Regions from separate parts of the Homo sapiens genome. Here region 1 is linked to region 2. Evidence: fine-mapped expression QTL. Tissue or cell type: whole blood. Region 2 holds a variant in brackets; the other region holds the start of a gene. All regions are shown on one strand. Distances are between the middles of the regions.

Evidence for each region. PIP is the estimated chance that this variant, and not a neighbour inherited with it, causes the effect.
Region 1: CDC42BPG starts here. The variant in region 2 is fine-mapped to the expression of CDC42BPG in whole blood (TOPMed, PIP above 0.99). The same link has a PIP of 0.9 or more in cerebellar hemisphere, sun-exposed skin, thyroid and unexposed skin.

The regions. Positions count from the first base shown.
Region 1 is chr11:64,840,480-64,848,579 of GRCh38, reverse strand. It overlaps CDC42BPG (CDC42 binding protein kinase gamma), which reads left to right and starts at 3,927. Exons shown (of 37, transcript NM_017525.3): 1 at 3,927-4,170; 2 at 6,676-6,767; 3 at 6,847-6,930; 4 at 7,932-8,027. The coding sequence starts at 4,011. RefSeq lists enhancers at 972-1,041, 4,452-5,264, 5,289-5,583, 6,077-6,889 and silencers at 1,342-1,431, 3,748-4,097, 4,108-4,157, 4,188-4,237.
Region 2 is chr11:65,022,261-65,030,360 of GRCh38, reverse strand. SNX15 (sorting nexin 15) reads right to left here and starts at 2,922. Exons shown (of 8, transcript NM_013306.5): 1 at 2,725-2,922. The coding sequence starts at 2,823. ARL2-SNX15 (ARL2-SNX15 readthrough (NMD candidate)) reads right to left here. Exons shown (of 11, transcript NR_037650.2): 4 at 2,725-3,043. It also overlaps the pseudogene EEF1A1P18. RefSeq lists a silencer at 2,791-2,960 and an enhancer at 2,810-3,104. The variant G/A (reference allele first, on the strand shown) is at 3,065.

The sequences.
Region 1 (8,100 bases), 180 kb after region 2:
GCTGCGGGGGGTAGCTGAGCCCTCCTGCACCTGGGGAGTAGTCGACCATGGAGGAGGCATTTGAATGAAGGTACCCTGGTGAGAAGGAAAGGAAAGAGGGTGGCCTGACTGCCTGGACAGGGTGTGACTGAGGCTCTCGGGGGTGTCTCCTGTCAAGACTCACCCATCCCTGTGAGCTGGGCCTTGGGCTGTGCCATGCTCAGGGCTCTGTGGGGAGCGTGTCAAGGCTGCTGTGGCCCTAGTGGTCTGGCCCCACAGGATCAGAAAACAGATCTGCTGAGCCAACATGGTGCCATGCCCTGGAGCTGCTTCGGGCAGTCAGGGCTGGAGGCCTGGCTGCTTGCTAAGGCTGGAATAAGCTCAGAAAGAGACTGAGCCTTTACAGACTTCCTTCCATTGGAGCTGCAAAGGAATGAGCAGGGGGCCCAACCCTCCCCCTTTATTTTTATTTATTTATTTATTTTGGAGACATGGTCTCATTCTGTCACCTAGGCTGGAGTGCAGTGGCACAATCTCAGCTCACTGCAAGCTCTGCCTCCCAGGTTCAAGTGATTCTCCTTTCTCAGCCTCCCGAGTAGCTGGGACTGCAGGTGTGTGTCACCATTCCAGGCTAATTTTTGTATTTTTAGTAGAGACAGGGTTTTGCCATGTTGACCAGGCTGGTCTTGAATTCCTGGGCTCAAGTGATCCGCCCACCTTGGCCTCCCGAGTAGCTGGAACTACAGGCTCTCACCACCACACTCAGCTAATTTTTAAGTTCGTTTGTAGAGATGAGGTCTCACTATGTCACCCAGGCTGATCTTGAACTTCTGGGCTCAAGTGATCCTCCCACCTCGGCCTCCCAAAATGCTGGGCTTACAGGCATGAGCCACCATGCCCGGACCCAACCCCCTTTTACAGACAAGGAAATTGAGGCTTACAAGACAGATGTGACAAAAACTAATAAAGGACCAGAAAGAATCACGTGTGAGAGGCGGGAGGTGCCGAATGCCAGTCCCAGCCCTGCCCCGTGCAGCCCTGGCCTCAGCCCTGGGACTCAGTGTCCACTCAGCTATACTGTGTGGGGATGGACAGATGGCTGGGGATGAACCTTTCTGAGAACTTACCAGAGAGGTTAAGGGACTTGCCTGAGGTCACACAGGGAGTGAGGCAGGGCCCAGAGGCCTCACCAGGGGTGTCCACGAGGGGCAGCGGAGGAGAGGCCCATCTTCCCACCCAGGAGCCCTTCCCTATCTCCGGTTCCCTAATGCTGGCTGGAGCGCCTGTCCCTCCTCTGGTCTCTGGCGCCCCCGTGTGGCCTCAGTGAGCAAGCCCCTTCCTACCTCCTGTGGGCTCCACCCCTGCCCCGCCCCTATAAGGAGGGCTCAGAATCTCTCAGGTGAGAGGGATCTGAACTCCTGCCCCCTCCCCCTTCCAGGAGACCAGAGGCAATGAAGGGGATCCCCAGAGTTTGGTTTGAATCCTGGCTCCCCATCCCATTCTGGTTGATTTAGGTAATACACCCAGACTCTGTTTCCCCAAACATTTCTCAGCCCATGGGCCCTGCGTAGCTACAGGGCGGGCCTCTGGGGAGATCACATGGGAGGCAGGGCGAGTCTGAGACCAGCCCCGGGCAATGTAGAGAGACCCCAGCTCTAAAAAAAAAATTAAAAATTAACCAGGCGTGGTGGTGCAGGCTTGCGGTCCCAGCTACTCAGGAGGCTGAGGTGGGAGGATCACTTGAGCCCAGTATGTTGAGGCTGCAGTGAGCTGAGATTGCATCACTGCACTCCAGCCTGGGTGACAGAGCAAGACCCTGTCTCAAAAAAAGGCTGGGTATGGTGGCTCATGCCTGTAATCCCAGCACTTTGGGAGGCCGAGGTGGGCGGATCACCTGAGGTCAGACCAGCTTGGCCAACGTGGCAATATAGTGCAACCCTGTCTCTTTAAAATAAATAAATAAATAAACAAATAATCACATGAAAAACCCTTCGTGGGGAGAAACACCCTGTTTGCTTCAAACATTCATGGAACACCTCCTCCCTCAACCTGATCCTGCCCCCATCTCAGCGAGGTCCCAGTACGAGAGGAGAGGCAAACCCCTAAACAGGTCTTTTAATGAAATAATGTGTTGGCCAGTGGCTACAGCCTGTAATCCCAGCGCTTTGGGAGGCTGAGGCAGGCAGATCACTTGAGTCCAGGAGTTTGAGATCAGCCTAGGCAACATGGCGAAACCCCATCTCTATAAAAAATACAAACATGGCTGGGCCCAGTGACTCACGCATGTAATCCCAGCACTTTGGGAGGCCGAGGCAGAAGGATCACCTGAAGTCAGGAGTTTGAGATCAGCCTGGCCAACATGGCAAAACCCTATCTCTACTAAAAATACAAAAATTAGCTGGGTGTGGTGGCACATGCCTATAATCCCAGCTACTTGGGAGGCTGAGGCAGGAGACTCTCTTGAACCTGGGAGGCAGAGGTTGCAGTGAGCCGAGATCGTGCCACTGCACTCTGGCCTGGGTGACAGCGTGAGACACCATCTCAAAAAACAAAACATCAGCCTGGCCTAGTGGTGTGAGCCTGTAGTCTCAGCTATTCGGGAGGCTGAGGTGGGAGGATCACTTGAACCCAGGAGGTTGAGGCTGTGGTGAGCTACGATTGCACCACTGCACTCCAGCCTAGGGGACAGAGTGAGACCCTGTCTCAAAAAAGAGAAAGAAGTGTTGTCTAGGCCGGGTGTAGTTGCCCATGTCTGTAATCCCAGAACTCCGGGAGGCCAAGGTGGGAGGATTACCTGAGCCCAGGAGTTCGAGACCAGCCTGGTCAACATAACAATAACCCTTGACTCCAAAAAGTAAAATAAAAAATCAGCTGGGTGTGGTGGCATCTGCCTGTAATCCCAGCTACTCAAGAGGCTGAGGCAGGAGCCTAAGAGGTCAAGGCTGCAGTGAGTTATGATTGCATCACTGCACTCCAGCATGGGTGACAGAGAGACCCTGTCTCAAAAAAAAAAAAAAAAAAGTGTTGTCTGAAGCCACCAATATGTCCCACCCTTTGATCTCTCCTCATGGTGCCTGGTCCATCCCAGCTGGACAGAAATCAGAAATACCACTGGACAGAGCCAGCCCCTCCCCTCCCCAACCTCCTCCAGCCTATCTCAGACCTCTCCTTGCCCTTCACGTTCCAGGTCAGACCTCAGGCCCTGCTCCTACTGAAGCTTAAAACGCCTGTGGTGTTGGTACCAGCCCAGCTCCACCTCCACCCCAGGGTCTAACTTAAGAGCCACCTTGTCCTCAGCCCCTCAATTCGCCTTCCTCCTTCCCAAGCCTCAGTGTGTCCATCTGCCAAATGGGCGTGACCATCCCTACCCCAACTTCCTGTCTCCCACATCAACTCTAATGATACAATCAAAGTAAGATTCAGAAACTTTTTTTTGGGCGGGGGCGGGGGGGCGATGGGTGCCAAGCGCGGGCAAACCATGGAGAGAGCGAACTACAATTCCCATCCGGCTCCGGGGCCGCGGGCGTCCCTAGCCCCTCTCTCTTAGCCAAGGGCAAGGCGGCTGCGACCCAGGGGGCGAGAGAAGTTGCAGTGCTCCGCGCCTCCTGGGTCAGGGCCCAGGGAGGGCCCAGGTAAGTCTGGGTCTGGGGCCGCGCGGGGATCTGGGGAGTCTTTCCGACCCCGCAGAACCCCACCGCGCCCCGCGCAGAAGTCAGTTGTTCTCCCCGGCCCGCCCCCGCACTTCCTGGCCGGGAGTTGGGCCCGCCCCCGCGCGCCTCCGCCCCCACCTTCACCTCTAGCCGCGGCTCCCATTGGCCGGCGCGCACCTGCCCGTCCGTCGGGGGGCGGGGCGCGGCGCCCAGGTGAGGGCGCGCTGGCGGCGGCGGAGGAAGGTGACAGCGGGGAGGGCGGGAGAGGGGCGGGGGAGGACGCGCGGACAGAGCCTCAGACGGTTGGGCGGACGGACGGCCCGACAGGCGGGCATGCGGGCGGCCAGACTGTAGCCGAGCAGCGAGGCTCCGGCCGCAGCCATGGAGCGGCGGCTGCGCGCGCTGGAGCAGCTGGCGCGGGGCGAGGCCGGCGGCTGCCCGGGGCTCGACGGCCTCCTAGATCTGCTGCTGGCGCTGCACCACGAGCTCAGCAGCGGCCCCCTACGGCGGGAGCGCAGCGTGGCGCAGTTCCTGAGCTGGGGTGAGTGGCGGGGCGGCACGGAGCGGGGGCGGGCCTAGGGATATCGCGCCGAGACCCCCGCACCCGCAGACTTTCCCGCAGGGACCCGCACCCCCACGGGCTTCCCTCGCAGACTCCCTGCAGTGGCCCTGACGCGTACCACCGGACCCCCGCGGCCCGCACACTCGCCTGCACACCTCACCCTCACTCCAATTCTCACACACGCTCTCTCCCTCTCACAGACCCCGACACATGCACACACATACCAACTTGTGCTCAGGTATCGACCGCAGACGCATGTACCCAGTGCACCGCCTAGAGTCCCTTACAGATTTCCTTGCTTACAGGCCACACCTGACGCAGGACACACACAGACCCTCATGCATGTCACCCACTGATACACGGGCTCTGTTTCTCCTTCCTCTCGGATGCATTGAGACACACAACTCATGGAGAGACCCAGGGAGCGCTGCAGACCACCCCGACCGCATTGGCACTGCAAAACACACAGATCTGTAGGTATCGCACACTTGCAGACCTTCCCCCCACCAACACACACACCCCCAGCTCCCTGGGTACAAGACCACTGCAGCCTGGACTCAGGAACCGATCTCCAACCCTTGGCCTGTGCAGGCTGCTGGCCAAGCTCCTTGGGGGCTGTGGCGCCGGGGCCGGGGAGGGGGGCCTAGCTGGAGATGGGTCTGTACCTTTCCTGGTAGACTCATCTGAGTCATTGGGAGTGGCTGGCCCGGGGTGACCCTGAACCCACTGTGGGCACTGGCGCCAGCTGGAGGGTTCCCTGGTCACACCCTGCCGGGCCATGGGGAAAAGGCACGGGGGCCTGGCCAGGGCGGGGTGAGGCAGGTGTTTGCCCAGTGGGCAACTAGCGTTCCTGGCACTCCTGAGCTCTGGGAAGGCACAAGGCCTGGGGTAGAGGGGGAGGCTGCCACCTAGATGTGCCAGGGAGTTGTCCCCTAGCCCCAACCCTTCCATCCAGGGCGAGGCAGTCAGAGGCCCCTGCCTCTGTGCCTGTCTCCCTGGTATGCCTCCGTGCTATGCCTGTCTGCCTGTGTTGTTGTCACCCCCCCCATGACACCCACACACGTGTGTGTGTTTGCACACACATGTGTGCTCCTCCCTGACTGCCTCCAGCACCTCTGCCTGGGACCCCGGCATGGGGGCCCTCTGTTGACAATCTCCCAAGGTAACTCAAAGGGCTGTGACTCATTCCTCTCCTGCTTGTCTCTACTTGTCCCTGCTCCTGCCCGGAGCCCCCATGCCCTGTGGGAGGCCAGAGGATTAGGCAGCCTGTCCAGGGGCCTGGATCCTCCTGCCTGTGGGCCTGGGCTTCGGCCCTCTTCTGGCGGGTGGGTCCCTATGGTGCTGGCTTCAACTCCCACGGGGAGGCCCGGGGCTGCTCCTCCCCAGCTCCACACACAGACCTGGGAAAGAGACAATGAATTTCTGTAATGAGGTTTCCACCCCGCCCCCGCTGCGGGCTTCTGCCTGATAAACCTGTGGAACAGCTCTCTGTCCCACCCACAGACCCGCCCAGCTGGCAGGGAGTTTACCTCCTGGCAGGGGGAAACTGAGGCAGGGCGCCAGACCACAGCTGCCCCCCATCCTGACTGATCACTCCTGCCTCCCTAAGACCCAATTCCTTCCCAAAACCTGGGGCTAATCCAGGCCTGGAAAGTGCCTGGGAGTGGCTGGAGTTGCCCTTCCTGGAGGTATCTGGGATGTGAGGAAAGAGGACGTTCTTGACCAGACAAAAGCTTCGTCCAGACAGGGAGGCAGGGCTGGGAGTGAGAGAGCCGGTCAGGCCTGGAGGCATCCTGAGCACTCACGCCTTCAGGGGCTAGTGCTAGCACCAGGGAAAGGCATCTTTGTCCTGTTTGTGAGTCTCAGCACCTTGGCAGACTGGCATCCATGCCTCCAGCCTGAGGGGCCCCACGTGGGAAGCATAGAGCCTGTCCTCCCTGCCCTAGGGGCTGCAGGCCTCACCCCCAACCAGGCACCTCTATGCCTACAGGGTCCCGGGACCCAGGCCCACAGCTCCTGAATGGGAGAGAAGCCTCTCTGGGGATAAGGAATGTCACCCGTCCAGTTTCCTAAGACAGGCCCTGGCCTGAACCTGTGAGGGGGCCAAGAACTGTGAGGTGGGGGTAGGAATGGTGTCCCCATGGTCCCCAGGGTGACCTGGCCAAGCAGAGTCAGGCCGCAGACTGGGCAGGACTACAAGTCCCATCAGCCCCTGGGATGGAGGCTGCCTAGAGTCTGGGGCCAGGGGTCCAGGGAGGTCCAGGGACCAGGCGGTCAGCTGAGCCCGGCCTCTGACCTTCCGCACTTCCTGATCATGGCCAAAGGAGCACCAGTTCCTGCCACAACCCCTTGGCCCGAGGCTGTCCCTGGGGAGGTCATCCCTGCCTGGGCTCACAGGAGCGGCAGCTCCTGGCTTGCCCAAGGTGAGAGGGGGAATGGAGCCCTCCCTCCCTGCACTCTGAGTCCCGCCCTGTGTCCCCTCAGCCAGCCCCTTCGTATCAAAGGTGAAAGAACTGCGTCTGCAGAGAGATGACTTTGAGATCTTGAAGGTGATCGGCCGAGGAGCCTTTGGGGAGGTGAGCAAAGGGCCTGGGGTAGGTGGGGGGAGGTGTTCACACCGGGCTGGGCTCACCCCGGTCCTCCCTGTGGCCTTAGGTCACCGTGGTGAGGCAGAGGGACACTGGGCAGATTTTTGCCATGAAAATGCTGCACAAGTGGGAGATGCTGAAGAGGGCTGAGGTCAGTGTGGAGTCTGGGGGGCCCTTGGGCACCCTACAAATGGGTGTGGGGGAGGTGTATGCTGCCAGGGCCTATGGCGCGGGGGGGGCGGGCAAGGCTGCAGACCAGGCAAAGGGTGCCACCCTCAGCAGCCACTGATTTGTTATCTTTCTCACAATAAACCCTTTATTTAATTTTTTAAATTTTTTTTTTTTTTTTGAGACGGAATCTTGCTCTGTCAACTAGGCTGGAGTTCAACGGTGCTATCTTGGCTCACTGCAACCTCCGCCTCCCAGTTCAAGTAATTCTCCTGCCTCAGCCTCCCGAGTAGCTGGGATTACAGGCACCTGCCACCACACCCAGCTAATTTTTGTATTTTTAGTAGAGATGAGGTTTTGCTATGTTGGACAGGCTGGTCTCGAACTCCTGACCTCAGATGATCCTTCTGCCTTGGCCTCCCGAAGTGCTGGGATTACAGGCGTGAACCACCGTGCCCAGCCTACAATAAACTTTTTTTTTTAAGATAGAGTCTCACTCTGTCACCCAGGCTGGAGTGCGGTGGCGTGATCTCGGCTCACTGCAACCTCCACCTCCTGGGTGCAAGGGATTCTCATGCCTCAGCCTCCCAAGTAGCTGGGATTACAGGCGTGTGCCACGACACCCAGCTAAGTTTCTTGTATTTTTAGTAGAGATGGAGTTTCACCACATTGGCCAGGCTGGTCTCCAACTCTTGATCTCAAGTGATCTGCCTGCCTTGGCCTCCCAAAGTGCTGGGATTACAGGCCTAATAAACCCTTTTGAAAGCAAGCAGAGTCGTTCCCATTTTCCATATGGTCACACTGAGGCCCAGAGCTGTAGAGCGTGGGCTTGGGCTCAGTCGCAGCCAGACAGGGGACAGTAGAGCTATGACCTCCATCTGAGCTCCCAGACTCACAGAATCTTTCTCCATCCCCTGAGCTGGCAAGGGGGGCATCCTGGGCTCTGATCCCACCCCACCCCTTACTTCCCCAAACCTGCTGCAGACAGCCTGTTTCCGGGAGGAGCGGGATGTGCTCGTGAAAGGGGACAGCCGTTGGGTGACCACTCTGCACTATGCCTTCCAAGACGAGGAGTACCTGGTGAGGATACGTGGCGGGGCTGGAGGGGAACATCCTAGGGACACAGGAGAGGGCCCTTGGGGCCAGGGGCACT
Region 2 (8,100 bases):
TTTTTTTGAGATGGAGTCTCACTCTGTCACCAGGCTGGAGTGCAGTGGTGTGATCTCGGCTCACTGCAACCTCTGCCTCCCGGGTTCAAGCAATTCTCCTGCCTCAGCCTCCCGAGTAGCTGGGACTACAGGTGAGCGCCACCATGCCCAGCTACGTTTTGTACTTTTAGTAGAGACGGGGTTTCACCATGTTGGCCAGAATGGTCTCGATCTCTTGACCTCATGATCCACCCGCCTTGGCCTCCCAAAGTGCTGGGATTACAGGCGTGCGCCACCACGCCCAGCCTCTACAAAAAATTTAAAAATTGAGCTAGGCGTAGTGGTACATGCTTGTAGTCCCAGCTACTCAGGAGGCTGAGGCAAGAGGATGGATTGAATGCAGGAACTTGAGGCTGCAGTAAGACGTGAATCATGCCACTGCACACCAGCGTGGGTGACAGAGCAAGACCCCGTCGCAAATAAAATAAAATAAAATAAAAATATAGGCCAGGCGCGGTGGTTCACACCTGTAATTCCAGCACTTGGGAAGGCCGAGGTGGGAGGATAACTTGAGGTCAGGAGTTCGAGACCAGCCTGGCCAACACAGTGAAATCCCGTCTCTACTAAAAACACAAAAAGTAGCCGGGTGTGGTGGCACACGCCTATAATCCCAGCTACTCAGGAGGCTGAAGCAGGAGAACTGCATGAACCCAGGAGGTGGAGGCTACAGTGAGCTGAGATCACACCACTGTACTCCAGCCTGGGCGACAGAGCAAGACTCCGTCTCAAAAAATATATACATACATATATTTATATATTATGTGCTTTATATTTTATATTTATTATATATAATACATTGTATTATATAATATGTATAAAAATATATCAAAGTAATGCATGTTGCTTGGTTTAAAAAGCCAATGGGAGGCCGGGTGTGGTGGCTCACACCTGTAATCCCAGCACTTTGGGAGGCCAAGGCGGGTGGATCATGAGGTCAAGAGATCGAGACCATTCTGGCCAACATGGTGAAACCCCATCTCTGCCAAAAAATACGAATATTAGCTGGGCATGGTGACGCGTGCCTGTAGTCCCAGCTACCTGGGAGGTTGAGGTGGGAGAATCTGAACCCGGGCGACGGAAGTTTGCAGTGAGCTGAGATCGAGTCACTTCACTCCAGTCTGGGCGACAGTGAGACTCTGTCTCAAAAACAAAACAAAACAACGACACAAAAAAGCCACTGGGAAGACTTATTTTTATTTATTTATTTATTTATTTATTTATTTATATTTTTGAGACGGAGTCTCGCTCTGTCTCCCAGGCTGGAGTGCAGTGGCACAATCTCGGCTCACTGCAAGCTCCACCTCCCGGGTTCACTCCATTCTTCTACCTCAGCCTCCCGAGTACCTGGGACTACAGGTGCACGCTGCCACGCCCGTAAGTTTTTGTATTTTTAGTAGAGATGGGGTTTCACCATGGTAGCCAGGATGGTCTCGATCTCCTGACCTCGTGATCCGCCCGCCTCGGCCTCCCAAAGTGCTGGGATTACAGGCGTGAGCCACCGCGCCCGGCCACCACTGGGAAGACTTATAATAAAAGGTTACAGTTCCTTGCCACATCCTCCCCACCCCAGCCCCACCTCCAGTCTATCTTCCCAGGGACAATCTATTTATTTGCTTTTTTTTTTTTTTTTTTTAAAGTTGTGTGTGTGTCTGTATTTTAATATTGATCCGGGGTCTCACTATGTTGCCCAGGCTCGTCTTGAGCTCCTGAGCTCAAGCAATCTGCTGCCTCAGCCTCCCAAAGTGCTGGGATTTACAGGCATGAGCCACTGAGCCCGGCCTTATTTGCATTATTTTTAGGCATGGAAAAGACGTAAACGGTTTGGGGAAAGCATATTTTAAATAGCTAAGATTCTGCACTTAGATCACTTTGGAAGTGTCCTTATGTGCCTGCTTTGCTTTTAGAGTTAACTAATGCACCAGCTTAATAGTCGCCTGGTTGAAAATTCTAAAAGTACAAAAAATTTACAGTAAAAAGTCTTCCCCTAACTCCTGTCCCCAGTGACACAGTTCCTCTCCCTGGGGACCTTCCTTGTTACCAGTTCTTGTTATCATTCTACAGGTGTCCTGTTTTACTGTTTCATTTTTAATTATTGTCATGGTTTCCTCCATGTCTCTCTATAAATTGTGCTTATGATGTTGTTATCGCTTCATATATCAACTCTAGCCTATCTATCTTCCTGCTGTGACCTTGATATGGCGACTTACTCCTTAAGTCCTTCTGAACTGCATCAATTTTTTTCAACCACTGATCAGTATTATTTTTTGAAAAATTAAAAATGGTTAAACTCGTTAAAGGGAGTTTATGTAACATCAAACAAACCAATAAACAAAACTTACTCTACGAGAATGGAGTACTAATATTTGGATTAAACCAGAGTTTTCATGTTAATTTAGAGAAATTCACAGCCTGATGCCCAGACACTACACTCCGGGCGTGGGCATACACGCCTTGCCTGTCCGGGAACGGCCGTCAACGCCCTTTTAAAAAAGACAGCGCCCACCCAGGACCCCGCCCCCTGGTGGTTAAAGATGTAAACTAAGCCTCGTACTGCAACCTCCCCTTAAAGGGGAAACCCATTTCTGTCGTCTAAAAAGGGAGCAGTGGCTGCACCGCCTTTCCTTAAGGTAAAACTCGGCGCCCCTCTAGTTAAAAGGGTAAAGTACGCGCTGGGCCCCACCTCACCTGCGCGGTTACTTTGTACTCGGTGTAGCCCTTGGGGTGAGTCCTGGGGTCCGACACTGTGTAGTGCCGCAGGAAGTCATCCTTCGCCTGGCGGGACATGAAACCGAGCTGGAGCGGAGCGGAGCGCCGGCCTCCACCTCCTCGCCGTCCCCACCCCTCCGGCCCAGCCTCCGCCCGCCGCCGCCTCGCCAGGCCTGCGCTCTTCTTCCTCTGGCCTAGGGATTTTGTCGCAAGTGACAGCGCTGTTCCGATCCCGGGTGCGCGGCCAAGGGAGCGTCTGAAAAGTTCCTTCTCTGTGGTGAAGCGTAAACCCAGGTCACTGGAAAGATTGGTTGGGAAG[G/A]CTGGGATCACTCGTCTCATTTCTGCCGGGTGATCAAGCCCACCCTATCCAAGCGTAAACCCTTGTCACAGACTTCCAAACGACTTCTCCCCGCTTCCTAAATCCCTGCTTTCGTTCATCCACCCAACTCTTATTGTGTCCAGTATGTACAGGACAACGTCAAATTATTTCCCTGTCTCCCTCCACAGGATTCCCTAATTCATGTTTTCTGGAAAGTAGAGGAAGCAAAGAAGGTTGGAGAAGCAGGATGGTGTCATGGGCTCTGAGTCACGACTCTTACTAGCTGTAGGAGTTTCCCTTAACTACTCAGCCTCAGTTTCTCATCTGTAGAATGGAGATGTTTATAATAGAATCTGTGTAGGGCAGTGGAGCTTTTTTGCGATGGGTTTGCTGCCAGAACACAGGTGTCGTGAAAACCACCGTTAAATCAAAGCCAAAATGGGGGTTTGGCGCGGTGGTTCACGCCTGTAATCCCAGCATTTTGGGCAGTGGAGGCAGGTGGATCACTTGAGGTCAGGAGTTCAAGACCAGCCTGGCCAACATGGTGAAACCCCGTTTCTACTAAAAATACAAAAATTAGCTGGGCGTGGTGGCGCACGCCTGTAATTCCAGCTACTCCAGGGGCTGAGCTGGCTGATGGCTTCAGCCCAGGAGGTTGAGGCTGCAGTGAGCTGCAATCACACCACTGCACTCCAGCCTGGGCAACAGAGTGAGACTCCATCTCAAAAGAAAGGGAGCAGGGGAGGGAAAAGACTCAGCTCAACATCATCATCTGATTTGGGCAAGTCCAGCACTACTGGCCATCTGATCTACAAGTGTGGTGGGATCCACAAAAGAACCATCGACAATTTTGAGGAAGCTGCTGAGATGGGAAAGGGCTCCTTCAAGCATACCTGGGTCTTGGGTAAGCTGAAAGTTGAACGTGAGAGTGGTATCACCACTGATACCTCCCTGCTGGCAATTGAGACCAGCAAGTACTATGTGACCATCCTCAATGGCCCAGGATGCAGAGACTTTATCAAAAACCTGACCTCAGGCTAATTGTGCTGTCCTGATTGTTGCTGCTGGTGTTGATGAATTTGAAGCTGGTAATTCCAAGAATGGGCAGACGCGTGAGCACACCCTTCTGTCTTACACGCTGGGTGTGAAACTAATTGTTGGTGTTAACAAAATGGATCCCAATGAGCCACCCTAAAGAGGAGAGATGGGGGCCGGGCGTGGTGGCTCACGCCTGTAATCCCAGCAGTTTGGGAGGCAGAGGTGGGTGGATTAGGAAGTCAGGAGTTCAAGACCAGCCTGACCAAGATGGTGAAACCCCGTCTCTACTAAAAATACAAAAATTAGCTGGGCATGGTGGCGGGTGCCTGTAATCCCAGCTACTTGGGAGGCTGAGGCAGAGAATTGCCTGAAACCAGGAGGCAGAGGTTGCAGTGAGCTGAGATCGTGCCACTGCACTCCAGCCTGGGAGACAGAGGACAGAGTGAGACTCCGTCTCAAAAAAAAAAAAAAAAAAAAAAGGAGAGATGGGAGAAATCATTAAGGAAATCAGCACCTACATTAAGAAATTGGCTACAACTCTGACATAGTAGTATTTGTGCCAATATCTGGTTGGAGTGGTCACAACAGGCGGGAGCCAAGAGCTCACATGCCTTGGCTCAAGGGATGGAAAGTCACCTGTAAAGATGGCGATGCTGTGGAACCACGCTGCTCGGAAGCTCTAGATCACATCCTACCACCAACTCACAAGCTCTTGGTTCTGCCCCTCCAGACGTCCACAAAATTGGTGGTATTGGTACTGTCAGTGTGGGCCACGTGGAGACTGGTGTTCCCAAACCTGGCATGGGTTTTGAGACCTTTGCTCCAGTCAGTGTTAGAATTGAAGCAAAAATCTGTTGAAATGCAGCATGAAGTTGGTAGGCTTACATACAACACATAGTATTTACTGCAGAGGAAGCATTGTGAATAGCCACTCTTGTTCCTGGAATTCAGGTGTACAGGTGCGGTGCCTTGGTCTTCAGAAAGAAGCAAAGCCTGGCATGGGGCTCATGCCTGTAATCCCAGCACTTTGGGAAGCCAAGGCGGGAGGATCACTTGAGGCCAGGAGTTCAAGACCAGCCTGGGCAACAGGCTGCCTCTGATTTCATGAGAAATTTAAAAATTAGCTGGGGGCCAGGTGCAGTGGCTCATGCCTGTAATCCCAGCACTTTGGGAGGCCAAGTCGGGCGGATTACTTGATATCAGGAGTTCAAGACCAGCCTGGCCAACATGATGAAACCCCATCTCTACTAAAAATACAAAAATTAGCCAGGTGTGGTGTCGGGTGCCTATAATCCCAGCTACTCGGGAGAATGGGGCAGGAGAGTTGCTTGAACCCGGCAGGCAGAGATTGCACTTAACCTTCTGGAGGAAATGTCATCCAGGAGCCAGTCAATGCCAGGCAGTGGGTTCTCCCCAGCAGTGGGGCTGCAGCCCTTGACGTACCAGTGGTGGCTGCAGAGAGTCCAGATGCAGGGCTTGGGAGAACAAAGGTGCTGGTGGTGGCCAGTGACCGCAGACCCTTCCCTCCCTGCTCAAGGGTCAGCCCATCCAGGAAGCCTCCCCGGCCCCTGGGAGAGCTTATCTGTTCCCCGGGGCACCTGAGCTCTCTGTACAGTGCCACGCCAGTGCCACCCCTTAGTGTCCCATATAAGAGAGGATCCTGATAGGCGGCACTGCATAGGGCTGTCCCTAACTGTATTGCTGAATGGAATGGGTAGTACTTAGAACAGTGTAGGGAAAAGAGAGATCAGACTGTTACTGTATCTATGTAGAAAGGGAAGATAGAAGAAATTTCATCTTGACCTGTACCCTGAACAATTGCTTTGCCCTGAGATGCTGTTAATCTGTAACTTTGCCCCAGCCACTTTGCCCCAACCCCTTTGCCCCAACCTTGAGCTCACAAAAACATGTGTTGTATGGAATGAAGGTGTTTTTTTTTTTTTTTTTTGAGATGGAGTCTCGCTCTGTCGCCCAGGCTGGAGTGCAGTGGCGCCATCTCGGCTCACTGCAAGCTCCGCCTCCTGGGTTCATGCCATTCTCCTGCCTCAGCCTCCCGAGTAGCTGGGACTATAGGCGCCCACCACCACACCTGGCTAATTTTTTGTATTTTTAGTAGAGACGGGGTTTCACCGTGTTAGCCAGGATGGTCTCAATCTCCTGACCTCATGATTCGCCTGCCTCGGCCTCCCAAAGTGCTGAGATTACAGGCGTGAGCCACCACGCCCGGCCTTGGAATCAAGGTTTAAGGTCTAGGGCTGTGCAGGACGTGCCTTGTTAACAAAATGTTTACAGGCAGTATGCTTGGTAAAAGTCATCGCCATTCTCTAGTCTCAATAAACCAGGGGCACAATGCACTGTGGAAAGCTGCAGGGACCTCTGTCCTGGAAAGCCGGATATTGTCCAAGGTTTCTCCCCATGTGAGAGTCTGAAATATGGCCTCGTGGGATGAGAAAGACCTGACCGTCCCCCAGCCCGATACCCATAAAGGGTCTGTGCTGACGTGGGTTAGTAAAAGAGGAAAGCCTCTTGCACTTGAGATAGAGGAAGGCCACTATCTCCTGCCTGCACCTGGGAACTGAATGTCTCGGTATAAAACCAGATTGTACATTTGTTCAATTCTGAGATAGGAGAAAAACCGCCCTATGGTGGGAGGCAAGACATGTTGGCAGCAATGCTGCCTTGTTATTCTTTATTCCACTGAGATGTTTGGGCAGAGAGAAACATAAATCTGGCCTACGTGCACATCCAGGCATAGTACCTCCCCTTGAACTTAATTATGACACAGATTCTTTTGCTCACGTTTTTTTGCTGACCTTCTCCCTATTATCACCCTGCTCTCCTACCACATTCTTCTTGCTGAGATAGTGAAAGTAATAATCAATAAAAACTGAAGAAACTAAGAGACCGGTCCCAGTGTGGGTCCTTGGTATGCTGAGCGCCGGTCCCCTGGGCCCACTTTTCTTTCTCTATACTTTGTGTCCTATTTCTTTTCTCAGTCTCTCGTCCCACCTGACGAGATATACCCACAGGTGTGGAGGGACAGGCCACCCCTTCACACAGAACCCTGCAGAGTAAGCAGCTGCTAGGACCCTGTGCCATGAAAACATCTGCCAGTTTTGCCACTTGGATTGGACCCCTGGGGTGGCCTCATTTCCTATCCTTTCCCAACCTGGCACTGCTTCTGAGTTCCTGTAGCCTTCAGGGAAGGCCTCAGTTACCCCTGCCTGATGTGGCCCCCCTCCCACCCTCTGGCTGCACTCTCTCCTACACATGACTCTATGCACCTCCCCATTTCCCAAGAGCCATTGCTTTTTTTTTTTGAGACAGAGTCTCGCTCTGTCACCCAGGCTGGAGTGCAGTGGCGCAATCTCGGCTCACTGCCAGCTCCGTCTTCCCGGGTTCACGCCATTCTCCTGCCTCAGCCTCCCGAGTAGCTGGGACTACAGGCGCCCGCCACCACGCCCGGATAATTTTTTGTATTTTTAGTAGAGACGGGGTTTCACCGTGTTAGCCAGGATGGTCTTGATCTCCTGACTTCATGATCCGCCCATCTTGGCCTCCCAAAGTGCTGGGATTACAGGTGAGCCACCGCGCCCAGCCGGAGCCCTTGCTCATCATGCCTGTCCTGTGATCCCCTCTGCCTGAATCTGTGCTGGCCTTGTACAGCTGTTCAGGTTGTCCACTGCACATGGGTTCCTGGCTGCAACAGAGAATTGGGAGCTGAATTTCAGCCCATGTTCCATGCAAAAAGTTGGAGCCCTGGTCTGCAGCTGTGTCTGTTTTTCTAATTCATACCTATGAGAGTTGGATTTCCCCTGGTGAACTGTCTTCCCCTTCCTCTACCTAGAAAACTACTCGCGCTTTACTCCCAGCTTTAATGTGACCTCCTTTAGGAAGCCTGCAGATGGAATCAGTTGCACCGTGTCCCATGCTTCTATAACTTTTTCTGCATCCCTTTGACATAGCCACAGTTCACCATCGACTCCAATGATCCATTC